Linked DNA regions of Homo sapiens. The protein of the gene in region 1 purifies or fractionates together with the protein of each later gene. This does not show direct contact. Each region holds a gene or a part of one and is shown in the gene's direction. Other genes may lie near its edges.

The links.
Region 2: the proteins of ARRB1 (region 1) and ACIN1 purify together in Homo sapiens (affinity purification with mass spectrometry; one large-scale study listed by BioGRID and IntAct). This does not show direct contact.
Region 3: the proteins of ARRB1 (region 1) and MYH1 purify together in Homo sapiens (affinity purification with mass spectrometry; one large-scale study listed by BioGRID and IntAct). This does not show direct contact.
Region 4: the proteins of ARRB1 (region 1) and EIF4B purify together in Homo sapiens (affinity purification with mass spectrometry; one large-scale study listed by BioGRID and IntAct). This does not show direct contact.
Region 5: the proteins of ARRB1 (region 1) and ELMO2 purify together in Homo sapiens (affinity purification with mass spectrometry; 2 studies listed by BioGRID and IntAct, with this or other methods). This does not show direct contact.
Region 6: the proteins of ARRB1 (region 1) and RANBP9 purify together in Homo sapiens (affinity purification with mass spectrometry; one large-scale study listed by BioGRID and IntAct). This does not show direct contact.
Region 7: the proteins of ARRB1 (region 1) and GNAQ purify together in Homo sapiens (co-immunoprecipitation; one study listed by IntAct). This does not show direct contact.

What each region holds. Positions count from the first base shown.
Region 1 is NC_000011.10:75,259,127-75,262,517, reverse strand, and holds the end of ARRB1 (beta-arrestin-1), read left to right. Parts: 3' UTR 1-2,396; downstream 2,397-3,391. UniProt on the Homo sapiens protein: Functions in regulating agonist-mediated G-protein coupled receptor (GPCR) signaling by mediating both receptor desensitization and resensitization processes.
Region 2 is NC_000014.9:23,063,623-23,067,993, reverse strand, and holds part of ACIN1 (apoptotic chromatin condensation inducer in the nucleus), read left to right. Parts: exon of another isoform or gene 1-634; intron 635-1,985; coding exon 1,986-2,028; intron 2,029-3,505; coding exon 3,506-3,639; intron 3,640-3,736; coding exon 3,737-3,889; intron 3,890-4,371.
Region 3 is NC_000017.11:10,507,913-10,512,283, reverse strand, and holds part of MYH1 (myosin-1), read left to right. Parts: intron 1-91; coding exon 92-210; intron 211-295; coding exon 296-445; intron 446-2,628; coding exon 2,629-2,799; intron 2,800-3,611; coding exon 3,612-3,921; intron 3,922-4,327; coding exon 4,328-4,371. UniProt on the Homo sapiens protein: Required for normal hearing. It plays a role in cochlear amplification of auditory stimuli, likely through the positive regulation of prestin (SLC26A5) activity and outer hair cell (OHC) electromotility.
Region 4 is NC_000012.12:53,029,952-53,034,322, forward strand, and holds part of EIF4B (eukaryotic translation initiation factor 4B), read left to right. Parts: intron 1-3,854; coding exon 3,855-4,083; intron 4,084-4,371. UniProt on the Homo sapiens protein: Required for the binding of mRNA to ribosomes. Functions in close association with EIF4-F and EIF4-A. Binds near the 5'-terminal cap of mRNA in presence of EIF-4F and ATP.
Region 5 is NC_000020.11:46,368,616-46,372,986, reverse strand, and holds part of ELMO2 (engulfment and cell motility protein 2), read left to right. Parts: intron 1-1,017; coding exon 1,018-1,181; intron 1,182-1,295; coding exon 1,296-1,408; intron 1,409-1,527; coding exon 1,528-1,635; intron 1,636-2,461; coding exon 2,462-2,544; intron 2,545-4,018; coding exon 4,019-4,096; intron 4,097-4,371. UniProt on the Homo sapiens protein: Involved in cytoskeletal rearrangements required for phagocytosis of apoptotic cells and cell motility. Acts in association with DOCK1 and CRK. Was initially proposed to be required in complex with DOCK1 to activate Rac Rho small GTPases.
Region 6 is NC_000006.12:13,620,792-13,625,500, reverse strand, and holds the end of RANBP9 (ran-binding protein 9), read left to right. Parts: intron 1-3,008; coding exon 3,009-3,139; 3' UTR 3,140-4,003; downstream 4,004-4,709. Other genes in the region: U3 small nucleolar RNA-associated protein NOL7, read right to left, coding at 4,674-4,709. UniProt on the Homo sapiens protein: May act as scaffolding protein, and as adapter protein to couple membrane receptors to intracellular signaling pathways. Acts as a mediator of cell spreading and actin cytoskeleton rearrangement.
Region 7 is NC_000009.12:78,024,441-78,028,811, reverse strand, and holds part of GNAQ (guanine nucleotide-binding protein G(q) subunit alpha), read left to right. Parts: intron 1-4,371.

The sequences.
Region 1 (3,391 bases):
TCCCCACCAGTCTTCATCGCTTGCCCTGCTTCTCACTTAGGCAGATGTCAACCAGAATGAGATACAGCCAATTTGGCTTTGATGACCCAGCTGAGAGGGAAATTTAGATACAATTCAGGAATATCATGCCCAAAAATAGTGGTCCCAGCAACCAGGACACAGAGGGAAGACCTGGATATTGTCAGTGATTGGTGGAGGGGGACATCTTGGACCCTCCTAGGCCTGGTGTCACATCTCCCATCTCTCAGACCCCACAGAGGCCAAGGGGCCTTGGCTCTGACCCAGGTTAAAGAGAGCCACCAGCCCCCAGGCTCAGGGAGCTGAAACCACCCATCCGCAGAAATCTAAGGGCAAGGAGAAATAGAAATTGTCTGTTCCTTCCCTTCAAAGTGTAAGGCCTCTTCCAGGAGCAACTGGAGCCACCACAGCTTCTCAGTGACATTGGGAGGGCTTCGGGCCCAGGAAAAACCCAAGCCTTTTGTCCTGAGAGCCGAGCCACAGCGGATGCAGTGGCGTCAGCATCCCAGAGCGGCAGCTTCTCTCCTGCCTGTCACTGGGGACTGGTTGCTCTCCACCCATCCAGGAGGAAGGGGTTAGGTCCCAGTCTTACACTCTTATAGGGTCTCATGGACATAGGCCTATGCCTGTTCTGATATCTATAATTTTTTAAACTCAAAAGGACCAAAACACTCCTGAACCCTCATCTATACGGCCTGCACTGGGCTTGGTGTTTCCTCCTGGCCCAGGCAGCTCCATCTCTTCTGCCATTCCTCCTGGACGAAAGTGGCAGGACCCCACCTCTACCACTTCCCCACAGGGTCACTGCACAGCGGCTTCAAAGACACGCCCTGTTGAAGGGGAAACATCCTCCCCCCATCACACTCCAACTCGTCACCCCAAAAGGGAAGTCAAAGCACAGGTCCGTGGGGCCTATGGTTTGTAGACACTGACACAGTGGTTTTCAAACCAGGTGCTGCGGAACCCCTGATATTCCACAGAGCTTTGTCAGGGGATGCTAAAGTGGGAAGATGGGAGTGGAGGCAAAGGATAGGTTTCCAGCCCTCCTCCCATTTCCGCCGCCACCAGAATAACTCTGCTTTTATCTGTCTTGCCTACTGAGATTTCATTTTCAAGCTTTCTTTGAAGAAGAACTTCAAACCACCATCTCGAGGTTTGATCTTAGACCAGCCAGCACAGGTTCTATTCTTGCTGTTCATGTTGGAATGGCTCCAGCGTTCCAGTACAAAGTGTCTTTGTGTTGGAACTTGGGTCACAGACCCAGGCACAAGCATTTATACACACACACACACACACACACACACACACACACACACACGTACATAGTTGATGGTTTTTCTAGCCAACCCACCCTGAAGCTCTGGCCAAGGTTTGATTTGGACAGGGACCTGGTGCTCAGTGGGGATGGGTCGTGACCCTGATATTGGCCCATGAAGCATGGGGAGCTCTGGAGCAAGGAAACAGGCTCAATCCCCCACTGAGGACTTGTGTCTGCACCCCTATCTGGCACCCCACTTTCCTGGCCTAGGCCCAAGGGACACAGCAGGAGAAGCAGTGTGATAGGAGAGAGGCTAGGGTTAAATTCATCTTTACACAGCGCCGGATGGATGGAAATCTTGGCTCACATAAAAGACAGACTCAGGGAGGATTTTATGACAAAAGTCCCTCCTTTGAGGGCAGGATTCCCCCAGGAATCCTGGACACTTTAGTGAGAACTGGACCAGCCCTTGGCACAAAACCCTGCCTGCCCTGTCCCCCACTCCCACCCCCCAGGGAATTCTAGGTGAAAATGTGAAGCTCAGGGCACAGCAAGCGCATGACACGGGTGTATTACATTCGGTCCGAGTGTGTCCTTAGTTTCCCTGTGTGCAAAATGGGGCTAGTCCAGGCTCTTCCCACCTCACTGGGACAATTGCAAGGGTCATAGGAGAGGTGGGTATGATAGGTGGTCATATGAGGTGGTGAGTATGAGAGGTGGGTGCCTCACAAACTCGGGGTATGGTCCTGACCTGCATGGCAGATGAGCAGAGCACTTGGGAACGAGCATAGGAAGTGCCATCTTCCCGGGCATCTCTGCTCAGTGTTAAGGTCTAGCCACAGACACTGTGGGACCTGCCTCTTCCTATGGAATGGGGGCCTGCATGGGTTGTGTCCTGGGGCAGGAGTGAGGGATGGCTGGGAAGAATCTCCAGGTCTGTGGCCCTTGTGTTGAGTGATTATTTTGTGACACTCTCATTCCTGGACCACCTGCCAGGTTTATCTGTTATACCTGTGGCATTCTTATTATGTCAGACAAGTTATTATAGTTCATTCAACTCTAACAAATGAACAAAAGAACAATAAATAGGAGGCCATTAAAGGTCTTTTGTGGCAGAGGATGCTGGCTGTGCTTTCATTTCTGTCTCATAAGCCCATGGCAGGTCAAAGACCAAGAAATGCCTCCCTGCTGCCCTGGACTGGCAGATGGGGCTCATGACTGGGTGAGGTGCTCTCTTCCCTTGTCTGTGGCCCCAGCTCCAGCCTGGTCCTTGTACCAACTTCTGGAGACTGCCAAAAACTTTTCTCCTGTCCCTCTTCTGCCACTTTTCAGCCTTATGGCCTTGGGAAGCTGGCATACCTCTCATCCCTCTCAGATACCACAGGATTTTGTGACCCATGGTTTGCTCCTGGGGTGAAGCCATCCTATCTTCTATCTTTGGCACCACTGACCACATCAGTGGGAGTCCTCACCCCAGCCCCAGCCCTGGTTCTTGTTCACTTCTTATCTCCTGCCCTGCTGGGTCTTCCTGAAGTCACTTCAGTTTTCAAAGACTTATGTGCCACCTGGTCTAACAGAACATATGGGAGGAGTAAGGATATCAGTGAGGAAGAGTCGATGTTCTAATAGATAATGTACTGTATTAACACAAAAGGAAGACGCCCATGCATATAAGATGACTTTCCTAGAAAATTAATTATATATGAAATATATATATATATATTATTTATTTATTTATTTATTTATTTATTTATTTATTTATTTTTTGAGACAGCGTCTGGCTCTGTTGCCCAGGTTGGAGTGCAGCGGCGCGATCTCGGCTCACTGCAAGCTCCACCTCCCGGGTTCACACCATTCTCCTGCCTCAGCCTCCTGAGTAGCTGGGACTACAGGCGCCCGCCACCACACCCAGCTAATTTTTTGTATTTTTAGTAGGGACAGGGTTTCACCGTGTTAGCCAGGATGGTTTTGATCTCCGGACTTCGTGATCCGCCCGCCTCGGCTTCCCAAAGTGCTGGGATTACAGGCGTGAGCCACCGTGCCCGGTCTATATATATATTTTTTGAGATAGAATTTTGCTCTGTCACCCAGGCTGGAGAGCAGTGGCGCGATCTC
Region 2 (4,371 bases), on another chromosome or scaffold:
ATCCACCTGACTGGAACCACTGTCTCAGCTGGAGTCCCTGAGGAGATGCCAGCCACAACTCTCCGAAGAGAAGTATTCTGACCTTGCTGCTGAATGTCTGCCAGGTCCTGGGGTATTCACCTACCCCCAGGCTACCTTCATCAGAGGCTCCATGATCCCACTCGGTGAGAGGACCCCCTCCCCAGTTACAGGCAGAGGAGAAAGGGACTCTGGAGTCATCACCTGGATTCCAAGTATTGGGTGGTGTTATTGCTGCAGCTTGCCACTGGTGGACATAGGGTCCTGCCTGCCTCTCACGATAAAAGGCAAGGATCATTCCTGCTACTCACAGGCCATCTCATCAGGGACTGCAAGATGATGTCCCTTCAGGGCCAGGACTGATGTCTCTGCCCCTTTCCCCCCTCTATCCCTCGCTGAGCCTGGCCACCGCCAGTGAACTGTCTTGACATCATGGAAACTGGGCAGCGTCCCCCCACACGTTTCCCTCCCGCCCCCCCTGCGCCCCTGGGAGGACTCTGGCAGTGCCGTGCTGACTACCACGCCGTGCGCCCACCTTTTTTGCCAACCCAACCCCCCACCAATTGCACAGCGCCTAGCAGGGAGGGCTCATTCTGATTGGACCGGCGGTTGACTAGATACAGTACACAGTGAGGTGCGATTGGCTGAACTGAAGATCCCAGGTGTGAGATGGTACCTGGAACATTTGTCATATTCCTAGTTTATTTTCTTCTTTATTTTCTTCTTCTTTTTTTAATATTTTATTTTATTTTTTTCTATATCTTTATTTTTTCTGATTTCTTTTATTTATTTATTTGGTTCATGTTTTTCCTGTTTTAATTAAGACCTTTTTTTTTGTTTTGTTTTTCTCACTAACTTACCCATCGAGAGCGGCCCAGCTAGGGGTCAGGCTGGCCCTTAACAGAGACCAAGGAGACTTGGTTAGACGACACAAACGGGGCTGCGGGTGGGGGTGGATGGGAAAGGGATTTCATCACGAGGTTTCTGCCCTACCCTTTAGAAGAGTGGTAGAGTGGTCTTAGTTTTTCCAGAAATAAGCACCTACACTTGAAAATACTCTATTCCCTTTTTCTCTCTCACTTTTCTCCCCCGCCCCCCATAGTCTTTCGTCATTCACCCACTGAGTGTTTGGGGTAGAGACTTGTCCCAAAGATGTCTTCTGGTCTTTGGCAGAGCCCCTAAGGCTTGAGCCCTGGTTGGAGAGGAAACAGTAAGACTCTGCTGGAGCTCCCTGCGGTGGCTGGAAAGTCTAAGGATCTCCTTGGGGACAATCTGCCCTTCATAAAAACCTTCCTTTATCAAAGACACCTTTGAGTTCTTTTTGCTAGCACTTGGCTCAAGAGCCTCATCTCCAGTGGGTCTGGTGCTGCCCTTTTCCACAGTGTGGTGGGGGTCTGGGCAGTCTTGACATGACAGTCTGCTGTCCAAGCATCTCAAAGCCATTGTCAGTGGGCATCAGTCTGGCCATTGAAGAAAGGAGGGTTACCTTGTTGAAGTTGCCATCCAAAGTTGGTTTTCCTTGTTTCCTCGAGTTAGCAAGGAAGGACCTGGGAGGACTAGATGACCCAGTTTGGGGCACAGTTTGTTTGGCTTGGTGTCCTCTCGACTCAGACGGTGAAAGAGGGGGTATGACCAACATCTTTAGGGGGCTGAGAGGCTACTGAACTCCTCTTCCAGCTTATTTCTGGTTAAGCTAATACACAGGTGTGATACGGAGTAGATGACTTTTCCCTGCTCTGATGTTTAGTTTTATTTTTTTCTCTAACTTGCATTGATTCTGCTTCGTTTTTGCCGTTTGCCGCTTCTGTTTTGGTCTCTGTCTGTCTCTGTGTCTCTCTCTGTCTCTCTCTCTCACTCTATCTGTGTCTTTGGAGGCTAAGCTAAGACTGCCCCATCTAACCTCCTTCCCCCCTCTCTGTGGGGTGTCTCTCTTTCTCTTTTTTTTCCCCTTTTTCTTCTTCATACAGAGCTCGCTGCCCAAATCATTCAAGAGGAAGATCTCCGTTGTCTGTAAGTCCAGCCCCAAATCCCTGATAAAAGTCAGGAATACCATAAAAACCAGCATTCATTGAGAACCAGAATTTCATTCTCAATGGCATTCTTGGGTCACTCCCTCCTGCCCCACCCCTTGTGCCTAGCAAATCTGAATCCTTTCCTATGTAGGGTTTCATTTTGGAATTCAAAACTTGAGACAATCCCCATCATATTGCTCCAGTCACATTTTAATGAGATACAGTGTGAGGTGTCTGAGACCATGTCCCATTTAGCCTTAGAGGCATTTATTCTTTCAGATACCTGAATACTCAACAAGGAATGAGTTTCAGGGACTCCTATGTGATGCTTAGCAGTTTATGAATTATTCTGGGTATTTTGTTGTTGTTTTTTTGAGACGGAGTCTCCCTCTGTAGTACCCTAGGCTGGAGTGCAGTGGTGCGATTTTGGCTCACTGCAACCTCCGCCTCCGGGTCCCAGTTCAAGCAATCCTCCTCCGCCTCCTGAGTAGCTGGGATTAGAGGCATGCGCCACCATGCCCAGCTAATTTTTGTATTTTTAGTAGAGATGGGGTTTCCCCATGTTGGACAGGCTGGTCTTGAACTCCTGACCTTGTGATCCGCCTGCCTTGGCCTCCCAAAGTGTTGGGATTACAGGCGTGAGCCATCGTGCCTGACCTTGTTTATGCGTTATTCTAAGAGAGCACCCAAGGAAATGAAAGTGCCCCACACCTCAAACAGTAACAATTTTAACATTTTCCCCAATGAGGAACTCTAGATTACAAAAGTATAATAGATGTTTATAACTTAAATATCAATCTGTAGTGTGAAAATTAAAGGAAGACCAGATCCCATCATGATCTTAGTTCTGCCTAGATGTTAGTATCACATAGTGTTCTTGTTTCTTCTGCATTTACATGTCCTTCTCAGTTTTTCTTCCACACTACTTGATATTACTGTCTACCATTAAAAGTTTAAACGGCTCATCAAACTAGCTACCCCTCCCTTACTGCTTTTAGATCAGTGTTCAGTCTGAAGCCATGGTTTCCCCAGTTCCCAAATATGATTTCTTTTCTTTTTTTTTTTTTGAGACGGAGTCTTGCTCTGTCACCAGGCTGGAGTGCAGTCAGTGGCACCATCTTGGCTCACTGCAGCCTCCGCCTCCCGGGTTCAAGCAATTCTGCTTCAGCACCCTGAGTAGCTGGGATTACAGGCATGCACCACAACGCCTGGCTAATTTTTGTATTTTTAGTAGAGATGGGGTTTCACCATGTTGGTCAGGCTAGTCTCAAACTCCTGACCTCGTGATCCACCCGCCTTGGCCTCCCAAAGTGCTGGGATTACAGGTGTGAGCCACCACACTCAGCCTCCAAATATGATTTCTTTAAGTTAACCTTTTACCAAAACTCCAGCCAGAGGTAACCTGTAGGTATTACGGTTTGAACTAGCAGAGGTCCTGAGACCATCTAACTGTTGGGTCTATTTCTTGGGGACAGCAGCTACCAAGGGGGTGCCAGCTGGAAACAGTGACACAGAGGGGGGCCAGCCTGGTCGGAAACGACGCTGGGGAGCCAGCACAGCCACCACACAGAAGAAACCTTCCATCAGTATCACCACTGAATCACTAAAGGTGAGGTGGGAGGAGCCAGGGAAGGGAGGATGAGACCTGTTAAGGTGGGAGTAGACATGGGCCCAGTGTAACGGGGTGGGGGGTATCTGTGTCCCAGAGCCTCATCCCCGACATCAAACCCCTGGCGGGGCAGGAGGCTGTTGTGGATCTTCATGCTGATGACTCTCGCATCTCTGAGGATGAGACAGAGCGTAATGGCGATGATGGGACCCATGACAAGGGGCTGAAAATATGCCGGACAGTCACTCAGGTAAGGCTTCTGCACCCCAGTGTCAGGGGAAAGGTGGGAGCAGTAGATGCAGAGCAGCTAGCTGAGGAGCTGAGATAAAGTCTTTGGAGGGAACTTCCCTGTCTGTGCAGAGGGTTGGGTTGACTGACACTTTCAGGGGTCAGACTACCAAATCCAGCTGGCTACCTGTTACAAATAAAGTTTGATTGGAACACAACCACACGAGTTCATTCACTTTTGTCTGTGGCTGTTTGTTCACTACAACATCACCAGAGTTGAGTAGTTGCAACAAACTATGTGGCCTGCAAAACCTGAAGTACTGCTTTGCTCTACAGAAAAAATTTACTAACTCCTGTCTTAGTTTTCCTCAAGGCAAAGTTGAGGCACTAACAATCCCAGGATCTGGTAGAAGTGAGCCGATAACGAAATACCCCTAGCGGAAGGAACATGCTAGATTGACTGCTACTCTTACCGGGGAACCAGAGGCTGAAAAGAATATGCCA
Region 3 (4,371 bases), on another chromosome or scaffold:
TTTCTACAAAGTTATTTACTCAATACTATGCCCCTTTGAACTGTGGGTCCCAGAGTAAGTCATATTAGGTATCTGAATTATGTTTCTGCAGTTGCTGACAAGGCAGCCTATCTCCAAAATCTGAACTCTGCAGATCTGCTCAAAGCCCTCTGCTACCCTAGGGTCAAGGTCGGCAATGAGTATGTCACCAAAGGTCAAACTGTGCAGCAGGTAAGTGCATGACCTCAATGAATCACACACATCCCAGGCCTTCATGACATGTCTTTAATAACACCAACAAACTTTATCTGTGAAGGTGTACAATGCAGTGGGTGCTCTGGCCAAAGCTGTCTACGATAAGATGTTCTTGTGGATGGTCACCCGCATCAACCAGCAGCTGGACACCAAGCAGCCCAGGCAGTACTTCATTGGGGTCTTGGACATTGCTGGCTTTGAGATCTTTGATGTGAGTTAGCAGAAAAATTGTACCAAAAAAGTTTCCAACAAGCAAGCTTGTTGCTGCAGTCATATAGCATGCCTGTAGTCACTTATGGAAAGGGTCTATGAAAAATAGCTGCACTTTAAACTTAACTGACACATGAAAGAGCACCAAAAGACCGTGAAAGGAAGTGAACTTTGGAATGAGACAGACCTGGATTCAAACTCCTGCTCTGCCAATTACTAGCTGTGTAATAATGAGAATTGTACCTGATTGATCATTGGGCAAATTCAACTAGGACCTGTAGGTAAAGCACTTAACATTCCAGATCACAGATTCACTTCTGAGATCTGTCTGCTAGTTTCAAGATTTCTGAATTTTCAGCCCTTAACACAGTCCCCAAGCATGCAGGCAGCACTCAGTAAACAGTAAGATACTGAGGGCAACAATAGAATCAAAGATAGCAGTGGAGAAGACAAAGTCTTTAAAAGAAAGACTTTGAGATTCTGTTTGCCGAGAAATGAAATGTGTTTAATTATTAGGATAACCTCTGCAATACCCAGGTATTGAGTATAGAAATGGCATCGTAAATAAACTCAAATTTGTCTGCCTAAGGAAGAATACCTGCTACACAGCTTAGGAAATAGGGCTACTGCAGTCCTCCACTTGACAGCAGTATCTCGGATGTGTCTCATTTAGAGGTCCCAATTCTAAACTTTTATCTGTGTACGGACTGATTGAAACTGGATGAAATTTTAGAAACGGAAGCACTTCCAGACATTTCCAAGCCAACGTGGAAAGAAAGGAATAATCTGTCATCAAGCAGGAACAGAAAAAGCAATCCACACTTTTTAAAATAAGAGAACTAATGACAGGGTACTTGCAATCATTTTGAGCTGCTTCTTTTTTTTTTTTTGAAGTAACAGCTTTATCGAGATATAATTAACATATCATACAATTCACCTATTTAAAGTATAAAATTCAATGGTTTTTAGTATATTCACAGGTACATGCTATCATCATAACAATTTCAGAACATTTTCATCATCCCAACAGGAAATTCTATTTTGTCCTCCCCCTAGGCCACAGAAACCCCTAATCTACTTTCTGTCTCTGGTTTTGGCTGTTCTGGACATGTCTTATAATGGAATCGGATAATATGTGGTCTTTGTGACTGGCTTCTGGCACTTCGCATATGCTTGCCAGATTCATCCCCCTCATAGAATTCCTTTGACTTTTGTGTATGGTGATAATGCCCTTAAACAAGGGCATCCTCAATTGTGTTTCTATGTAGGTGTCCCGAATAATAAAGCAGGGCAGGTCTACTCAAGTTCTAGGAGTAGTTACAAACACTGGCTCTGGCATCAAAATGTTGGGGTTCCTGCCATGACCCTTACTACCATGGTCTTACACAAGTTACTTAGCCTCCCTAATAGTGTTTCCTCACCCATGAAATGAGCAAATGATACCACCTACAAAGGTAGCTGTGAGGATTAAATGCAGTAACTTATACAAGGCACTCAGCATAGTGTCTACTGTAGAGTAAATGTTCACCAAATATTAGCTGTTGAATTTTTATTATTAAGGACAACATACAGACCATAATGGCTCAGATCTAGCAAATTTAGCTAGTTTACAACATAATCATAATCATTAAGAAACCTCTGACTAACAAAAACAAATACTATAAAAACCAAACAACTTTTAAAAAAAAAACTTTTAAGTTCAGGGGTCCATGTGAAGGTTTGCGACATAGGTAAGCTGTGTCGCCCACGTATGAAGCCTAGTACCCATAAGTTATTTTTTCTGATCCCCTCCCTCCTCCCACTCTCCACCCTCCAATAGGCCCCAGTGTGTGCTGTTTCCCTCTATGTGTCCATGTGTTCTCATCATTTAGCTCCCACTTATATGTGAGAACATACAGTATTTGGTTTTCTGTTCCTGCGTTAGTTTGCTAAGAATAATGGCCTCCAGCTCCAAACAACTTTTTTTTATTGCATAGGAAAGCATCATTCAGAGCTTGTTGACAGGTGTTGAAGAGACAATTTTAACAAGTATGCTAACAGCAGCAAAAACTTCATTGTGTAGGTATAGGTAGGACAAAACGATACCATCCTAAGAGGGCAATTTGGCTAACTAAAAAAACACCCCTTTCAAAGAGAAGATTTCATTATAAATTGAATGCTAATTTGTATTTTCAACTCATTTAGTTCAACAGCCTGGAGCAGCTGTGCATCAACTTCACCAATGAGAAACTGCAACAGTTTTTCAACCACCACATGTTCGTGCTGGAGCAGGAGGAGTACAAGAAGGAAGGCATTGAGTGGACGTTCATTGACTTTGGGATGGACCTGGCTGCCTGCATCGAGCTCATCGAGAAGGTTGGCTTGCTTTTTGCAGACCACAGATCATACTGCTGTACAGTATTTAAAAGAAAATCATAAAATCTTGATATAGGCAATGGCTAAATATTTCTACTTGTGAAAAACATGAGGAGAATTCCTTATTTTGCCAACTCTGAAGTAGATATTCTGGTAAAAGGAGATTAAATATTTTCTATAGAGTCCAGAACACAACACTTACCCACAGTTTGCAATACAAAGTCTTACATTTAAAGTCATCTTTCCTTACAAAAAGTGCACTGACTAGAATATTTTTTACTTACTGTTTTTTGTCATCCTAAAGTCATTATTACTGCATTCAAAGTATGAATTTCTACTACTGTACGTTAAAGCAGAGGCTTTTAAAATCCAGTGTGCGAAAGACCCACCAAGAATACTTGGTACAATTGCAGGTTTCCCTTGTCTCACCCCTAGAAATATTTTCTGGTAAGTGTAGGATGAAACATCGGAATCCTCATTTTGAGCAAGTGATTCTGATGCAGCTAATTCGCAAGTCACACTTGGAGAAATATTGCTCTCAGGTCTTTGGGGTAAAGACACAAACTCCACAGGAGCACAGCCTTCATCTGTCTTACTCTGTCATATCCCAGAGCCTGATACAGCACGTGGCTCCTGATCAGCACCCAATAAATATTTGTGAAGTTAATGACTTCTGACCAAAGGAACGAGTTTTCGTTAACTCTGTAGAATTAAAGGATGAATTTACTCAGATGGGATAATTATTAATGTTAAATGTTATTTCTATAAGCAGACAGAATTCAAGTGGCATTTATTTCTTTTCATTCTTCCAGCCTATGGGCATCTTCTCCATCCTGGAAGAGGAGTGCATGTTCCCCAAGGCGACAGACACCTCCTTCAAGAACAAGCTGTATGAACAACATCTTGGAAAATCCAATAACTTCCAGAAGCCCAAGCCTGCCAAAGGCAAGCCTGAGGCCCACTTCTCTTTGATTCACTATGCTGGCACCGTGGACTACAACATTGCCGGCTGGCTTGACAAGAACAAGGACCCCCTGAATGAGACTGTGGTGGGGCTGTACCAGAAGTCTGCAATGAAGACTCTGGCTCTCCTCTTTGTTGGGGCAACGGGAGCGGAAGCAGGTAATTATCAATATAATTAATCTTTTACCTAATGTATAAAACATAACTAGAGGCCAGACACGGTGCCTGTAATCCCAGCATTTTGGGAGGCCAAGGTGGGTAGATTGCCTGAGGTCAGGAGTTCAAGACCAGCCCGGTCAACATAGCAAAACCCCGTCTCTACTAAAAATGCAAAAATTAGCCGGGCATGGTGGCAGGTGCCTATAATCCCAGCTACTCGGGAGGCTGAGGCAGGAGAATCGCTTGAACCCAGGAGGTGGAGGTTGCAGTGAGCCGAGATCACGCCACTGCACTCCAGCCTGGGCAACCAAGAGTGAAACTTCGTCAAAAAAAACAAAAAAAAACAAAAAAAAAAAACCATAACCAGAGAAAGGCTGTCCTATGATTGCTTTCTTTTTCCCCTCAGAGGCTGGCGGTGGAAAGAAAGGTGGTAAGAAGAAGGGTTCTTCT
Region 4 (4,371 bases), on another chromosome or scaffold:
TGGCTCACATTTGTGATTCCAGCACTTTGAGAGGCCAAGGCAGGAGGATCACTTGAGTCCAGGAGTTCAAGACAAGCCCTGGCAACATAGTGAGACCCCATCTCTGCAAAAAATACAAAAGTTAGCTGAGCGTGGTAGCATGTGCCTGTAGTCCCCGTGTCTTAGGAGACTGAGGTAGGAGGGTCGCTTGAGCCTGGGAGGTCAAGGCTGCAGTTAGCCAAGGTCTCATTTCAGCTTGGGCAACATAGTGAGACCCCATCTCTGCAAAAAATATAAAAGTTAGCTGAGCGTGGTAGCATGTGCCTGTAGTCCCCGTGTCTTAGGAGACTGAGGTAGGAGGGTCGCTTGAGCCTGGGAGGTCAAGGCTGCAGTTAGCCAAGGTCTCATTTCAGCTTGGGCAACATAGTGAGACCCCATCTAAAAAATAATAAAATAGGAAATAGGTTTTAAAAAATTATATTCTTTTTTTTTTTTTTTTTTTTTTTTTGAGACGGAGTCTCTCTCTAGTTGCCCAGGCTAGAGTGCAATGGCGCGATCTCGGCTCACTGCAACCTCTGCCTCCCAGGTTCAAGTGATTCTCCTGCCTCAGCTTCCCAAGTAGCTGGGCTTGCCACCACGCCCGGCTAATTTTTGTATTTTTAGTAGAGACGGGGTTGCACCATGTTGGCCAGGATGGTCTGGATCTCTTGACCTTGTGATTCGCCCGCCTCGGCCTCCCAAAGTGCTGGGATTACAGGCGTGGGCCACTGCGCCCAGTGAAAAAACTACGTTCTTAAAAGCGATTTCCTCAAGCAAGAAGCCTAAAAATAATAGCTAACATTTATTAACCATTTACTCTGTTCCATCAGTGAGCTGAGGGCTTGTACAAGTATTGTTTAATTCTAAGACTTCTGTGTGGTATAGGTAAAATTACAAGTTAGAAAAGTGGAGGCTCAGATGTGGGCCTCATGTTCTCCTTGACTTCTGACCTTTTCCTCTCTCACACTGTCCCTTACCTCCCCACCAAGAGCTGCATACCTAATTTTTTATTTCTCTTCTTGCTCTTACCCCCCCATTCCCTCTAAGATTTGCCCTCTTGTCTCTAGTTGCTGCTGCTACCTTCGTTGAGGCCTCATTGCTGCACCCACGTTACTGGCCATTGCCTCCTAACAGAGTTCCCTTTCTTGCTCCGTTCTTCACATTGGCCCCAGTTGTCAGTTGTCTTTCTGGCATAAGATCTAATTACCTTATTCTCCTGTTTAGACCTGTCTAGTTTCCCCATGGCCTGGAACATAGCCCTTTCTCTATACCTCTGACATACACGGGCCTTCACTGTTTGCCCAGCCTTTACTTTTTTCTTCTTGAGACAGGATCTCACTCTGTCGCCCAGGCTAGAATTGCTGTGACATAATCATGGTTAACTGTAGCCTCAGCCTTCTGAGCTCAAGTGATCCTCCTTCCTCATCCTCCCCAGTAGCTGGGACTAGAGGTGCGTGCCATATGCCTGGCTAATTTTGATATTTTTTCTAAAGATGGGGTTTCTCCACATTGCCCAGGCTGGTTTTAAACTTCCAAGTTCAAGTGATCCACTTGCCCTCGGCCTACCAAAGTGCTGGGATTACAGGCGTGAGCCACTGTGCCCGGCTGCGTTCTTTTATTAATATCTTAAATGAGCTACTTTTTCTGAGCCCCTATTTTATCTTACAAAAGTGACGGGGCTATAACACAGATTTAAAATATGTTTAGGAACATATATAAACTGTCGGCTTAAAGCCCTCGTAGAAAATTTAGATCTTGTTAAACAGTACCCTCTATCTACAGGTACTATGTGCATATGTAGTAAAAGTATAAAATCAAGTGTGGGCATGATGAAGTCACCATCTAGTGGTTATTTAGAGGACAGAGTACAGCTGGTCATGTCATCAGGAGGTTTTACCTCTTTGTTAAGGTTACATTACTTAAGCCAGGTGATTGTATACATAGGCTTTCTTTATATTCTCTGTATCTTTTGTATATCCAAAATATTTAGGACAAACAATCATTTTTAGAAATTTAACTTCCTTGAAACACTTAGGTTTCTCTTGAAAGTGTTCTGACAACTTGAATTGAGGAAGAAATCAGACTGCCTGCCTTAAGAGTTTATTTGTTCAGTGTTACATGCTTTGCCCCATGAACCACCTGCCAAATTTATATTATACACAGAGACAAGGGTATAAGATCTAGAGTCTTCCTGGCTGGGCGTGGTGGCTCACATCTGTAACAGCACTTTGGGAAGCCAAGGCAAGCGGATCACTTGAGGTCGGGAGTTCAAGACCAGCCTGGCCAACATGGTGAAGCCCCATCTCTACTAAAAATACAAAAATTAGTTGGGCATGGTGCCACGTGCCTATACTCCCAGCTACTGAGGAAGCTGAGGCAGGAAAATCAGGGAGGCAGAGGTTGCAGTGAGTTGAGATCACACCACTGCCCTCCAGCCTGGGTGACAGAGCGAGACTGTCTCAAAAAAAATAAAGAACTAGAATCTTCCCTATCATATTGTATTAGTTCTTAACATGCAGATTTCGGAGCAAGATACTTTCATCCAGTAGTTTAATGATGGTCAAAAATTTCTTCCCATATAAAAGAAGTCTTGATAGATTATTAATTTATTACTTAAATGTTTACCATTTTTAGTCTTTCCTGTGGTCTTGTACTACATCATGGATGTGGTAGAAGAGTAATTGAACTTGGGTTTTTTTGTTTTTTTTTTTTTTTGAGATGGAGTTTGGCACTTGTTGCCCAGTTTGGAGTGCAGTGGTGTGTTCTCAGCTCACTGCAACCTCCGCCTCCCCGGTGGGTTCAAGCGATTCTCCTGCCTCAGTCTCCTGAGTAGCTGGGACTACAGGCATGTGCCACCACTCCTGGCTAATTTTGTATTTTTAGTAGAGATGGGGTTTCTCCATATTGGTCAGGCTGGTCTCGAACTCCTGATCTCAGGTGATCCGCCCGCCTCAGCCCCCCAAAGTGCTGGGATTACAGGCGTGAGCCATTGCGCCCGGCCAGAACTTGGTTATTTATGCCACCTATTTTTATTTTTATTTATTTTTATTTATTTATTTTAGGCGTAGTTTTGCTTTTGTTTTCCAGCCTGGAGGGCTGGAGTGCAGTGGTGCGATCCTGGCTCACCACAACCTCTGCCTCCCAGGTTCAAGCGATTCTCCTGCCTCAGCCTCCCGAGTAGCTGGGATTATAGGCATGCACCACCATGCCTGGCTAATTTTTTATTTTTACTAGAGACGGGGTTTCTCCATGTTGGTTGTGTTGGTCTCGAACTCCCGACCCCAGGTGATCCACCCGCCTCGGCCTCCCAAAGTATCGGGATTACAGACGTGAGCCACCACGCCCAGCCTGAGCTACCTATTTTCTTTTTTTTTTTTCTTTTTTTTATTTTTGAGACGGAGCCTTGCTCTGTCACCAGGCTGAAGTGCAGTAGCTCGATCTTGGCTCACTGCAACCTCTGCCTCCCAGGTTCAAGCAATTCTCTTGCCTCAGCCTCCTGAGTAGCTGGGACTACAGGTGCGCGCCCCAACGCCCAGCTAATTTTTGTATTTTTAGTAGAGACGGGGTTTCACCATGTTGTCCAGGATAGTCTCGATCTCTTGGCCTTGTGATCCACCCGCCTCGGCCTCCCAAAGTGCTGGGATTACAGGCGTGAGCCACCATGCCCAGCCTAAACTACCTGTTTTCTAATGATCTATTTGCCTTCTGTGGATTGGTTAGGCCACTAACTTGAATCTCATGTAGCATTTCATAGGAGTTATATCTGAGAAATCTGGCTTTCAGCCATCAGCTTCTGGTGATTGGAAAACTATTACTTAAAGTTTCATTTAACTTAGGTCCCCCCCAAAGACCCAAACTGAATCTAAAGCCTCGGAGTACTCCTAAGGAAGATGATTCCTCTGCTAGTACCTCCCAGTCCACTCGAGCTGCTTCTATCTTTGGAGGGGCAAAGCCTGTTGACACAGCTGCTAGAGAAAGAGAAGTAGAAGAACGGCTACAGAAGGAACAAGAGAAGTTGCAGCGTCAGCTGGATGAGCCAAAACTAGAACGACGGCCTCGGGAGAGGTGTGTTGTCTTGATGGATATCCCATCTAGGAATCCGGTGGTTCGTAATGGGGGCATTACATCCCCAGGGGCATTTGGGAAATTTGTGTCGTTATCACATTAGTGGTTGTCACTGATGGGCATTTAGTGGGCTGTGGCCAGGGGTGTTAGGCAGTATGCAGTGTTAGGGACAGTTTTACACAATGAAGAGTTGTTCCCTGTCCATTACAAAAGTGTTTACTATTAAAAGCTGGTATTGTATCTAAAAGGCTAGAGACCTACTATAATAAGTAATTGCCCTGAAAAACT
Region 5 (4,371 bases), on another chromosome or scaffold:
CTCGGTGCTTTCAGTCCTCACTCTATGCAGAGCACTGTTGTGCCAGGCCCTCAAAAGCTGATCATCTAGGGGTCGAGTGTTTTGAAGTTGATCATCTCATCATAAAAAATTTGGAAAGTATAAAGAATAAAAAGTTACCTGTATTTACACCATCCAGTGACAAACATTTTTGTTTTCCTCTAGTCTTTTTTATCCCCTACAGGTTTTTCCTTCATTAGCAAGATCATACTGCGCATGCAGTGTGGTATCCTGTTGTTTTCTTTAATAGTTGTTTTAAGGGGACCAATGCATTTTTTTAAAACACCACAGCGTGCCAGAACTGCGCTTGCCTTTCTATTCTTTTGTTTGTTTTTTTGAGACAGAGTTTCACTCTTGTCACCCAGGCTGGAGTGCAGTGGCACTGTCTCGGCTCACTGCAACCTCCACCTCCGAGGTTGAAGTGATCCTTCTACTTCAGCCTCCTGAGTAGCTGGGACTACAGGCGTGAGCCACCACACCTGGCTAATTTTTGTATTTTTAGTAGAGACGGGGTTTCACCATGTTGGCCAGGCTGGTCTCAAACTCCTGACCTCAGGTGATCCGCCTGCCTCAGCCTCCCAAAGCATGAGCTACTGCAACCGGCTGGTATCTCATATTCTTTATGGCAACACCTATCAGGAGATGTGTCTTCCTTTCTCTCGGTTTAGAGATGAGTAGATGCACACCTAAGGATGTTAAGTGACTTGCTGAAGGGACAGAGTCAAGATGTGAACCCATTTCTTTCTGACTACAAAAATCCATGCTCATTTCCCCCACACCATTGACCAATTGAAATATATGGGAAATAAAGCATCTATCAGTGTCAGTCATGTGACCTGAATAACCATCTAAGAAGGTATACCTTACTCACCCAGCAGATGTCTGTAGTGCCTGCCCTGCTCAAGACCCTGGGGCAGGAAAGAGCCTTGGTGCTCCATAATAGGCCTGTCCATTTCTCAAGAGTAGTGGTGTGAGTTGGCTGGGTTCTTCTCCTCTTAGGTTATGCAAGTCGTCCGAGAGCAAATCACTCGAGCTTTGCCCTCCAAACCCAACTCTTTGGATCAGTTCAAGAGCAAATTGCGTAGCCTGAGTTACTCTGAGATTCTACGACTGCGCCAGTCTGAGAGGATGAGTCAGGATGACTTCCAGTCCCCGCCAATTGTGTAAGTTCCATCTCAGGGGAGGCTGGCGGGGGAGGTGGCTGCCAGCTCTGCTTTCCTTCCAGAGCTCCACTGTCCCCATGACCTTCCGCTCACTCCAGTGTGTGTCCACCCCAGGGAGCTGAGGGAGAAGATCCAGCCCGAGATCCTTGAGCTGATCAAGCAGCAGCGCCTGAACCGGCTCTGTGAGGGCAGCAGCTTCCGAAAGATTGGGAACCGCCGAAGGCAAGGTGAGAGGAGACGGGGCAATCCTTGGTGCCGGGAAGAGCCTGCCTGGATGGCCCCTTTTGTGCCCAGGCCTTTCCCAGTACTGTCGTTGCTCACCTGTTTGGCTTCCCTTGTGTTCCAGAACGGTTCTGGTACTGCCGGTTGGCACTGAACCACAAGGTCCTTCACTATGGTGACTTGGATGACAACCCACAAGGGGAGGTGACATTTGAATCCCTGCAGGAGAAAAGTAGGTTCATTTCTCTGTTGATGTGTCATGGTTGCTGGACTTGTCAGGAGACAGGAGTTCTAGTCCAGCTGTTTGTAGCTGATCATCTGGGCTTGTACCTGTTACCTCTCTGGACCTGTTTCCTTATCTGTCAGCGATTTCCTCTACCTGGCCTACTCGGTGGGGTGGTTTGGAGAAACAATGAGTTCACAGGTGTGAATGTATTGTGTAGACTGTAAAGGGTGGTACATGACTAAGTCGAAAGGCAGTAGTTAAGAGGAGAAGCTGTGAAGCCAGACTGCCCACATTCAAATCCTGGCTTTGCTCCTAATTAACTTGAATTCTAATTAATTGCAAGTTCTCCCCTCTGCCTTGGTTTCTTCTCCTGTAAAGTGGGAATAATAGCCACACTTTCCTCCTAAGAGGATTGCATGAGTAATGTATGCAAAGCACTTAGAAGAGTGGTTGGCAGGTAGTCAGCATAACTGTTAGCAGCTGCCACTGCTGTTGGCGATGATGGCATCATCATCGCCATTATTGTGAAGGAGAGGGGAAGGGAGTCACCAAGGTCCCGTTCCTTGGGGATATAAATCCAAGAGCCCTGAAGTGACCCTCAGTTAGCTTTGACACAGCCTCACTGGGCTGTGGTCTACAGGAGTGACCAAGACGGAGGGAACAGTACAAGGCCATCCTCCCCACCACCCTCACTGAGCTCATACAGCAGCCCTTGGAGTTTGGGGCTGAGGCTTCCTATGCATCTGCCCCAGTACCTCCCTTCCAGCACTGATGTAGGCACTGACCAGCTTGCAGCATGAACTTCCAGAGACTAATTCCCATCATTTATCAGTTCCTGTTGCAGACATTAAGGCCATTGTCACTGGGAAAGATTGTCCCCACATGAAAGAGAAAAGTGCTCTGAAACAGAACAAGGTGAGTAGAGAGGCCAGTTTGAGTAGCTGGCCCAGTGATACTTGGAGAGTGCCATTGGTGGTGGTTTTTTCCAGGTGCATTCTTGGCATCTTCCCCTCTCTATTCCTGAATGTTTTATTAAGAATTTTGAACATACACAAAAATAGATGGAACCTCTGTATACACATCACCCAGACTCAGCAACCATGGCCAGTTCTGCCCATCCACTTGTTTCTCTCCTTTATCGCTTTGAAGAAAGTCCCAAGTATCACACTGTTTCATCTGTAAATATTTAGTGTACATCGTATAGTGTATAACATTGCCACCAGTCCATTAGCACACATAACAGGAAATGAAAGTAGTTATTTCAGATCAAATATTCCACTGATGGTGACTTTCTACCAATTGTCTTATAAATGTCATAATTTCTCTACAGATATATAAATGTTTATATGGATACACACACACACACACACACACACACACACACACACACACACACCCCCATACCCATCTTGTCTAAACCAGAGTCTAAGACTGGTCTTTTAAGTTTCTTAATTCATAAGTTCCCCCGCCCCCCCATCCCCCACCATCTTTTCCTTTGCAGTTTATTAGCTGAAGAACCAGATTGCTTGTTTGGTAGTTTCCTAGCATCTGAATTTTGCTGATTGTTTCCCCGTGGTACAGTTTAACTTGTTCCTCTGTCCCAGATCTGTACATTGGAAGAGGGATCTAGAGGTTTGATCCAGTTCAGGTTTAACTTTTTTCCTGGCCAGTGTCATCAGTGGTATTATGTTCTATCAAGAGGCACATAACGTCTGGTGGTCTCTCCTTTTGTGATAATTAGCAGACTGTTGAAGCTCAGTGCCTCATTCCATCAGTCAACTAAGGTTTGCAAACTCATGATATTTTGATGCAGTCATTGCTTTTCATTTATGAGCTGAACCATGAAACTTGCCCTTATCTACTATTGGTTTCCCAGTGGTACAGTTTATATAGGAAACGAGAATAAATGCTGATTCTTCTTTTATGTACTTACTTTCAAAATAATGAGTTAGTTCCTTGGTATCATGCAACAGTGACCAATTTTGTGTGTGTGTGTGTTTTGTTTTGTTTTTTAATTGTTAAGACATTCCTATGCCAAATACAGCACGATAGAAGTTGTTAGTCATCTTGGTAATATAAAAACTTTTAGGATAACTTACAGTCATGGATCGTGACCTTCCAGGGTTCTGAGTGTTGAAAATGACTTTTTTCCAATCTTAAAAATATCACAACATCTTTGATGTGACTTGGGCAGGGAGTGGGTAAGTTAAGGTTGATTTATGCTGGGCCTCATCTCCAGCCACACTTGTGGCCGCCTAGGAGCATTGATGACATTCATCTGAATCAGCATGTTTGGTGATGATGCCGAGTCACTAGGACTTTGGCCAAGATCTTGATGTGCAGACCCCAGGCTGTTCCATCGCTCTAATTTAAACCCTTTCTCCTTCAGGAGGTGTTGGAATTGGCCTTCTCCATCCTGTATGACCCTGATGAGACCTTAAACTTCATCGCACCTAATAAATATGAGGTGAGCAGTGTGGCGCTGCCTTAGACAACAGAGCTATTTCTGTAACTCTTCAGTTGGTGGCAGGAATGAGCAAAACAGGAAAGTCCCCTGTGGTGGGTGGCTGCAGTGTATATTGAAGCCTAGGAAGGCTTTGAGAAGAAGGTGGCATTTCAATAGGATGGGAATGTCTCAAAGGAGGAGCTGTGGTTGGGGGGGCACCCAGATGAAGCAGCAGGTATCATTACATAATGCTGGACCTGAGGTTCCTCCAGGCGCATTGGGTGGCTGCCAAGGAT
Region 6 (4,709 bases), on another chromosome or scaffold:
TCCTTTAATTCCAGATTCAAGTGGATTTAAATAGAATAAAAACAGTAAGATGGGGTACAACTTGGGATGTTTGGGAAATAGAAGTTTTTGTGTGCATGTATGTAAGCATTTCTGGTAGCCACGAATGTCTACTTCTCTCATTAGAATGAGAGATTTGGTGGTCCTTGTGTATAATTCAAAATACTACCCTACCAGAGACATTCCTTACAGCCCTCTTTAGTGAAAGGCATTTTCTGCCACTGATTTCTAGGCTAGGAATTGGGTGGCATTCTCTCGTTTGGCTGCTGTAGAAGGAATCGGAGAACGTTAAGAACATAGATTAATAATTGTCACAAGAGTTAGGCTAGAAGGGAACAGGGTACATTTGAAGAAAAGAGGTCAAGAAAGGTTTTGATGGAGAGAATGAAAATGGAAGTAAGGGAGTGAAGAGCTTGAATATCAGAGAAGCTCAAACTGATCCAGTAGAGGGCAGGATTCCTAGCTGGTCCTCCCCTGTTACCTGGTTCCCAACCATTTTGCTTGAGCTAAATTTGCAATGGGTAGCAGCAGCCTAAGCCACTGGTATCACAGCTCCCACCATGCTTATGAATATGGGCACAAGGGGCTTCCTGATGACTTGTGAGTACCCGGCAGGATCAAGCCTTGATGTCACATTCTATTTGCATTTATATTAGCCGGATTCAACTACATGCCCTTACCCAATAAAAAGGGTGGGTGAGGAAGAGAAAAGCAATTTAAAAGGCGAGGCTTAGCCAGGGGTGAGCATCAAGTGCGAAACGCTAATTCGATGTTCGTTTGGTTGCCATTCCTATGAGCAGCTCACTGTAGCGTTTGTGATTATAGTATTTATATACTGAACAAGTACTTTTTATATGAATTGTGTAACTGCACATATTGTGCATTTCTATATAAATGTGATAGGGTCGATTGTTTACATAAAACAAGTTTGAGTTTTGGGCAGTTCTCATCAAAGGTAATTTATATAAAGAGTGAGTTTTCATTTGACTTCAGAGTCTAATTCCCAGGTAATTGGGACTCCAGTCTAGTTTAGAAGTCTGTGCTGTGCTGTTTGGCCCTGCAAGGTTCAGGGACTTTTAGTCACATATTTCAAACTAGTTTAGGAAGATGAGGGCAGTGCCACAAAAAGTAGATTAAAGAGTAGTTTAGATAGGGAGACTTGCAATGAGGGCCAGGACTCTTACAGCAAGAATGTAAAGGAAGCAATGAAAAGCATTCATATTTAAGACTCAGTCTGTTTCTTTGCCCTTAGAAAATTTATTAATTTGTTAAGGACCAATACTGAAGTTTGGGAATAGGAGTAGTGTCCTCAGTGTTGTAGTTCTCCGGAATTTAGGATTTGTATATAAATGTGAATTTTCTTTGGTTAATGTGTTATATTTTCATTGGTTCTACAAAATTCATTTAGCTCCGTTGGTAAAAGTAACTTAGTAATAATGCTGGAATTGTAAGGAAAATTATGGTTTACTATAAATGTCTTTTTGAAGTTATATTGTAGGTAATCATTAAGACCTAATTATTAGATGATACTAATCTTTAAAGTGACCAGTTTTCTTACAATTTAGTTTCTTGAGTTCTTCAAGGGAATTTAATTGTTGAGCACCATTATCTATAGACACATATACTCTTACATATTGTGCTATATTATGTAGATTCAGCCATAAATAGTGCTTAATCTTATTAATATAAATGTATGCGATTCCTGTAAAATTAATGACACAATTATTAAACTGCTATAGATGGGCATGTATATGTTTATAAATACCATGCTATATTATGTAGGTCCATCTATATAGTGTTATGAAAATTTCATACATCCAAAAAAGTTAAAGATGCATCGCCAGATGCTTCCTTTGGCCAAAATAAAATTAAAAAAATATTCCCTGTAGATGTTTGTCTTTGAGCACGGTCTTCCCTGTGAACCCTCAAGACACCACACTTTCTCATCAATCTATGTGCCCTTTTTTGCACACGTTTATTCTTAATCCTGTTTTTGTTTTCTCTTCTACCTTTAAGTCCTGAATTTGCTTCTTTCTGATATTGTGCTTTTTCCCTTTTGGAAATTTCCTCTTCTTTCTTCCACCATCAAATTGCATCCTCTGAACCAAGAGTGGAGTTAAACCATATGAAGCCTTCCTAGCCATGTGTCAACTGTTTTTGCCCTTTGTTGTCAACTGTGCCTATAAAGAACTGATTAGTAATTTTATTGATTAGTTTGGACATTGCCTTCTCATAAAGAGAAATTACCAGCTTCTGAGTCTGGCCACTTTTACCATTAGTTCATTTTTTTCCATCTCTGGCAAGGAACAAATTTTGTTAATTATTGCATTTGTACTACAAATGTCTGACAAAGAAACTTATGATATGCAGGACCCTGAAAATTTATTGGCATTTTTTTAAATGTCTGAACTGTCCACTGTAAATTAGCACCTCCAAAACTGTGGGGTGGCTCTGCTGTATGTTCTCTCACTGTCACCACCACCACTTACTCCCCACCAGCCCAAATAACATTACCTATATATGCCTTGGAGATGGCTAGGCAGCCTGTTTGGTCCTATCCACAGAGGTGGAAGAACCCATCAGTGGAAACTTGTAATGAAAACCTGGTGCCTTTTTTAGTTTTAGTTAGTATCAACTGACTTTGATCAACCAGAAGGGAAATAATTCCTTACTCTCCACTCCAAATATCAGATAAAAAATTGTACCTTTCCCATCATAGTTAATATGGAAGTATTTTAGTATCTGATACTTTAAAAGTCTGATTCTGCCAGAGTTTATCTTATAGTTGAATACACAATACCCACACTACCTTGTCAGAATAGTATGTCCAAGGCGGCATCTGTCTTTTGCTTAGAAACCTTCATTTGCTGATATTTCAGAGTGGTATGGGAGTGGTAGTTTTTAAAGTCATTGCAGTATTCTCCTGATTGAAATGTTTTTTAAAATGTCTTGCTAATTGCTGTTCTCATTTTTAAATTATTTTTCCTCAGAAACCCACAATCTGCCAAAGCAACCTCCACTTGCCCTAGCAATGGGACAGGCCACACAATGTCTAGGACTGATGGCTCGATCAGGAATTGGATCCTGCGCATTTGCCACAGTGGAAGACTACCTACATTAGCTATGCATTTCAAGAGCTCACACTTATATTGTGGCATATAGTCAACATGGAAGTAGACCAGCTCTGCTGATTTGAAATTTAGATTTTTTAAATTATGTACTGGGGACAGGTTTTTGTCGCTTTACATTGCTTCCTAGTTTACAGCATGATGCAAATGATTTTCTAACTTAGTGTTAGGAGAAATTATTTTCCATCTTTAACCTCTTAGTTGTCTAAGAGTTAAATATTACTGAATTTCAGACGTTCAAATTGATCATCACAAATCCTTTAAAACAATTACCTAAAAGAAACCAAAAATCCTGCCTTCTTTGTGGGGGAGGGGGGAGAGAGGGGAAGGAAATGGAACAAGTTGTGTTTGTGTTAGCATGTGGGTGATGTAAACTTCAAATTGGGAGATGTTCCGACCCCCACTCCCATATAAGCATTCAATCAGTGTAACTTGCAAAATGCATAAACATCCGACAGTTTGAATTTATAGTGTTGATGGAAGAAATCATTTTTAATGTGTACTGTAAAACTTGAAATACTCAGGAGCTGAGTGAATATGTTTGTTGCTACTTACAATCCCGACCTGTTAGTCCCAGTAGTTTTGTTTTAACATGGTCTTTTTCAACTTTGTTTCCTGTTTAACTACAGATGACTTCTGTTGTAGACTCACAAGTTTAACTGTTGTATTATAACAGTATTACATGTCAACGGTGTGGTTATGACCTTTATTTATATAAAAACCAAATATTTAGTCAATTTACCGTGTCTTAATTTAATCTTTGTACACCTTCCATTTTTAAGTGCTTAAATGAGTACTATATTGCAATAAAATGTAGTGATATAATTAACCAGCCATTAAAAATTTACTTCTACAGATACAGTGTCAATTGAGTTTATATATTAGGTACTTGCATACTTTTTATGATTACTATGAAAATTAGAGCAATTAAAATTAATGGTTTCTACAATTAATCTGAGTTCTACAACCTAAAATTGCCTTCAGTTTACTGGCATCCCTGGATTAGGGTTAGACCTGATATTGTGGCTGACACAGAAAGGCAACAGGAAATTAACTTCATTATTTTCATATTCATAATATGGCATATGAGACTCACCAGGCAAGCAAATCCCCAGACTGGTTAAAAGTAAAAATTTAAAAGCTGTTAGCTATATTTTGTGCACTGAATCTTTAATAGCAAATTGTCTACAGGCTGCAGTTAGAGACTTTGCTGGAATATCCATTTCTCCTTTTAGTCCGTGCCATTTTTGCCACCCCTCTAACCCGGGGAGAGTAGAAGAGGTGCTGTTGCTGATGTGGGTATGGCTTGAATTCAGTTAAATATATTAAAAAGAAAACAATTCCTTCTTAAACCACTTTTTCCTCTAGGATTGCAAGGCACAGTTCTACTCCAGAAGAATGAAATGTGGTTGAGCACTTCCTCAAATAGGTTTATGATTTTTATAATGATCCTTTAAAATGATCTATGAATGATTTATTAGATAAATTCTATACATACAAAGTACAGATTCTTCATTTAGCATTGATTTACTTCTTAGTTTTCATCTTTCTGACCATCCACCG
Region 7 (4,371 bases), on another chromosome or scaffold:
GAATCCAGGACGGTTGATTTCAACAAGGAAGATATTAGGGAGGGATTTCATTTGAGGAATTCCTGATTCGCTGCTTTGATGAGTACACTGAATGTTCTGGTTCCTTCTATCATTTAAACAAACCTATCTAGAGGAGATTATAAGATGTATCCATTCACAGTTTAAAGATCTACTAATATTTTTAACTAGTTTATGGAGGAATAAGTATTTTGAAATGAAAATCAATGTAAAATTGTTTTCAAAGTAAATTTTAGTTCAAGGCTTGATACCATTTTAATGGAAGAGGATTTGTTTGACAGGGATAAAAGTGGGTACCCTTGCATTTGCTCATGTAATTATTTACTTTTGTGTATTAATAATATGGAGACATTTAAAAAGACAATTAGTGGGTACCTGACTAGATGAAAGTATGGCAGTAAAATTTGGGCTATGTTGATTTATATTCGGCAACTATGCCAGTCTTCCAAATTTATTCCGTATGCTTATATATTATATATTTTTATTTTAACTTTAGAAACGTGAACCCTGAAATCTACCACTATAAGAATATTACATTAAATTTTGAATTATTTTCTTGTTGTCTTTTAACTTATTCATTCTTTGAATTCATTTATGTTAGTGTTTGACACTCAAAACTTACTCTTTGTATTCTATGTAGATATACAAGAGCATACTTCATTTTAACTTGGTTAATGTTTTTATATATTTTGTAGGTATAAAGCACATATTTTCTTTAATTGATTAATTTTCATGAATATTCACTAAATATTTCTGTTGGTGGTACATAGATAACCTCATTTAATATAATTTGTAAGTCTGTGTAATACAAGTGGCCTTGAGTGCCTGCTTCATGTTACATATAGTTATCCTGAAATTTTTTTCAGTTCCTAGAAGAAACATTTTTTTCCTGTTAACCTGTTCTTATTTTACACGTTTTTGAAGTCTTTTACTCTTTAGATCTTAATTATCAAATAGGAAGACTTAGTAAACCCCTTTAATTGATTGAATTATCGCTATTGAAACAGGCAAAGTTTAGGCCAGTCTTTTTTTTTTTTTTTTTGAGATGGAGTTTTGCTCTTGTTGCCCAAGCTGGAGTGCAATGGCGCGACCTCACTTCACTGCAACCTCCGCCTCCCAGGTACAAGCGATTCTCCTGTCTCAGCCTCCCAGGTAGCTTGGATTACAGGCATGCACCACCACGCCCGGCTATTTTTTTTGCATTTAGTAGAGCTGGGGTTTCAACATGTTAGTCAGGCTGGTCGCGACAGGCCAGTCTTAAATGGAAGACCTTAAATGGTCTTGGTCTTCTGAAATGAATTTTATATATGAGCACAGATTTTCTTCCTGTTGTACACTGCAAACATATGAGAGTAGAGGTTGTGTCTGTTTTGCTCACTATTAAATCCCAGCTTCAAGCACAGTATCTAACTCGTAGAATGCTCTCAATAAATATTGGCTGAGTAAATGAATTTATTTATTACCCTCCTGCTGGAAATTAGACCAGACAATAATGAATAAATGTATAGAAACATAGGAATATATAATGTTTTTATCTGTGGCAGATAAAATCAGGATCTTAAAAAAATTGTGTGTAACTCTTTGAGCCAACTGATTATAAATGCATTCCAGGATAGGAAGTGTTAATGTAAGATGTTGCATCACACATTGAACCAGTGTATTACAGTTCTGTACTGGATGTATTTGAGAATGGTAACAGTCATGCTTAAAGTATGAAAGTTTAAAGAAAAGAAAAACCATTCTATATTTTTATTACTTTTTATTGTGTAGAGGCTAGTTTAACCCTCTCATCTTTTTACCATACATTTTTCTCCATGGTACAGGGCTCAGTGAATTTTTAATACTCTGTAGAGCACAGGTGATGACTAAATGGGTGTTTGTGATTGACTTATACAATAACGTGAGGAAAACCACCATAATTAAATACAGAATTTCAGGAATTGCAGTTAGAACATTTTTAATATGAAGGATATGCATTTGTACTGAAAGCTATACAGTTTTAGACCAAGAAGGGGCTTGGAAGGCTGGAAGTGCTGTAGCCAATTTAAGCTGTATGGGAAGTTAATTTCTACACATCTGGAAAAGAGCACGCTTCCCACTGCTCCTCAGTAGGGTTCACTGGAGTGGGTATGTTGATTGCCTGAATTAACCTAGAGGTCAGTGCCATCTAGGATGGTGACTCAGAACCATTGAGTGAAAGCCTTGGTCTAAGTAACCTCAATAACAGCAGCTCCCTAAAAATAGCAAAATATGGTGTTTATGAGACTGCTTTAAGGACCAACAGGTTTTATTTTTTGCTACTCTTTTAGCTTCCAAGTGTTGAATATGTTTCTGAATGTCAGGATTTATTTGGATACAGTTCCCTTTTTTGTTGTTGTTGAAACAAAGTACTTATAGTTTATATCAGAAGAACAAAGTGGGAACATCCCTCATAAAAATCAAAACTGTGGCTCTGACTGTATAACAAAGCCTTCGGAATAAGTTTTTTGCATTGAACTACGTAGATTCATCGTCTGGATCTCCATATAATGTCCCATCCTTACCCCTATATGCTATTTCTTCATATGGCAAATCTGACACAAATTAAAACCCTGCTGAACAGTGAAAATATTGCAGGTTTATCTATTCACATATTCTAAAGTAAGTTTAGAAAGGAGAACCAGAAGACTAATTTAGTAGCCATTTTAATATAAATAAATTTGATAGAATCTTTTTCATTAAAAAAGAAAACCATCTCAGCTCTACTTTAGGAGAAATGGCTTATGTTCAGTTTTCAGAAGTGCCTATTAAAAACAGTTACGATTTTTATTACCCATGAATTTTTTAGGACCTGAAACAGCCTTTGCAGTTGTGAGGCTGCGTGCTATGCTAAACTTAGCAGAAAAAAGGAACAGATTTTTCTTTATGATCCAGGCACACTTACACTTGAAAAGAAATTAACAAGATTCTCTAAGGAAGGTTTTGATTCCAGCATTCATATTAATTTTTCTTTAAGGGGAGTTATTCTACTAATATTCTGTTAATATTAGTAGAAATGTTGATTGGATGTTGTAGAGGGAAAATAGGGAGCTCAAAGGGTACATCTTGGAAGAGACAGAAGCCATTTTATAAGGAGGTTAGGATTGCTTTCTCCCTCAGAAGGTGGAGGGAATCTGTTTCCTCTGTATTGGGTTGAGGAAAATACAAGTTTGTGAAGCAACAAATTTTAAAGTCAAATTTCCTGGTTGGAACGGGAGGCAGTCACATTTTTCAAAGGAAAACTTTTGTAATGCCTTTTAAGTTATGTTAAGATCTCTGCAGACTTAATCCTAGTGAAGTGTGAAATAGCAATAGAAGGTAAAATGTGCGATTGTTGGTAATTAAATCTGTGGCAATAACTGACTACAGTAAACCGTGAACGTTTACTCTTGTTCTGCCGAATGGAGTAACATTAAAGAAAGAGCTGCTCTCAGACCCAAACACTATTTTGTGTGAATAGCTGTTACTGATAAAATTATAGGAAGTTGTTCAACAATCACCTTTGATTTGTTACATTACCGATATGTAAAAAATAAAATTATAGGAAGTTGTTCAACAATCACCTTTGATTTGTTACATTACCGATATGTAAAAATCTGTCTGATTTCTCATCTAACATGTAGTAAAAGGACCTAGGCATACTGATGAAATGAGTTAACACATCCTAGGTGGTCATGAATTTGGGCTTTAAAAACAAAAATAAATGTCCATGTTGCAGTGCCGAGAATCCCAAATTGGATTAACTATACAGCTCTGTTGTTAACCTTTATACATAGCCATAATCAGTGCAGAATATTTTGTTAAAAGCCTTTATGGTTAATTTTAAAGAACAAAATTAGTATTACTTAAAAATCAAATTATGAAGATATCTCAAATCCATTTTTTCAACATATACTTGTCAGTTATTAAAAAATATTTCCTCTAATTTTTTTTTTTAACCAGGCATAACTTAAGAAGGAACAGTTTCATGCAGAATGCTAGTCAAATGAACAAATATGAGCACCTACTATGTGCCAAATAATGTGCTGTGTGAGATGCTCCTTATGTCTTATTTGCCGACAGGAAAGACTAAGCACTTTGCATAGTTCTTGTATTGTAGCTGATGTCCTCGTACTGACATGCCCTTCTGACTTTATCCTTCCTGGCTTTGGCTTTTCTATTGGGTTTTCATACACAGAAAGAGACAAAATAATCTGAAGGCCATTGTAGGAGCTTCCTGGGGATCACAGGACTGGGGAATGCGGATGATTTTACCTTGTGTTTCTAAGTGGATTGGAAGCTCCGTGAAGGCAAAGATCCTTGCTCTTGTATCTTTATCGCAATTCCTGATGATTC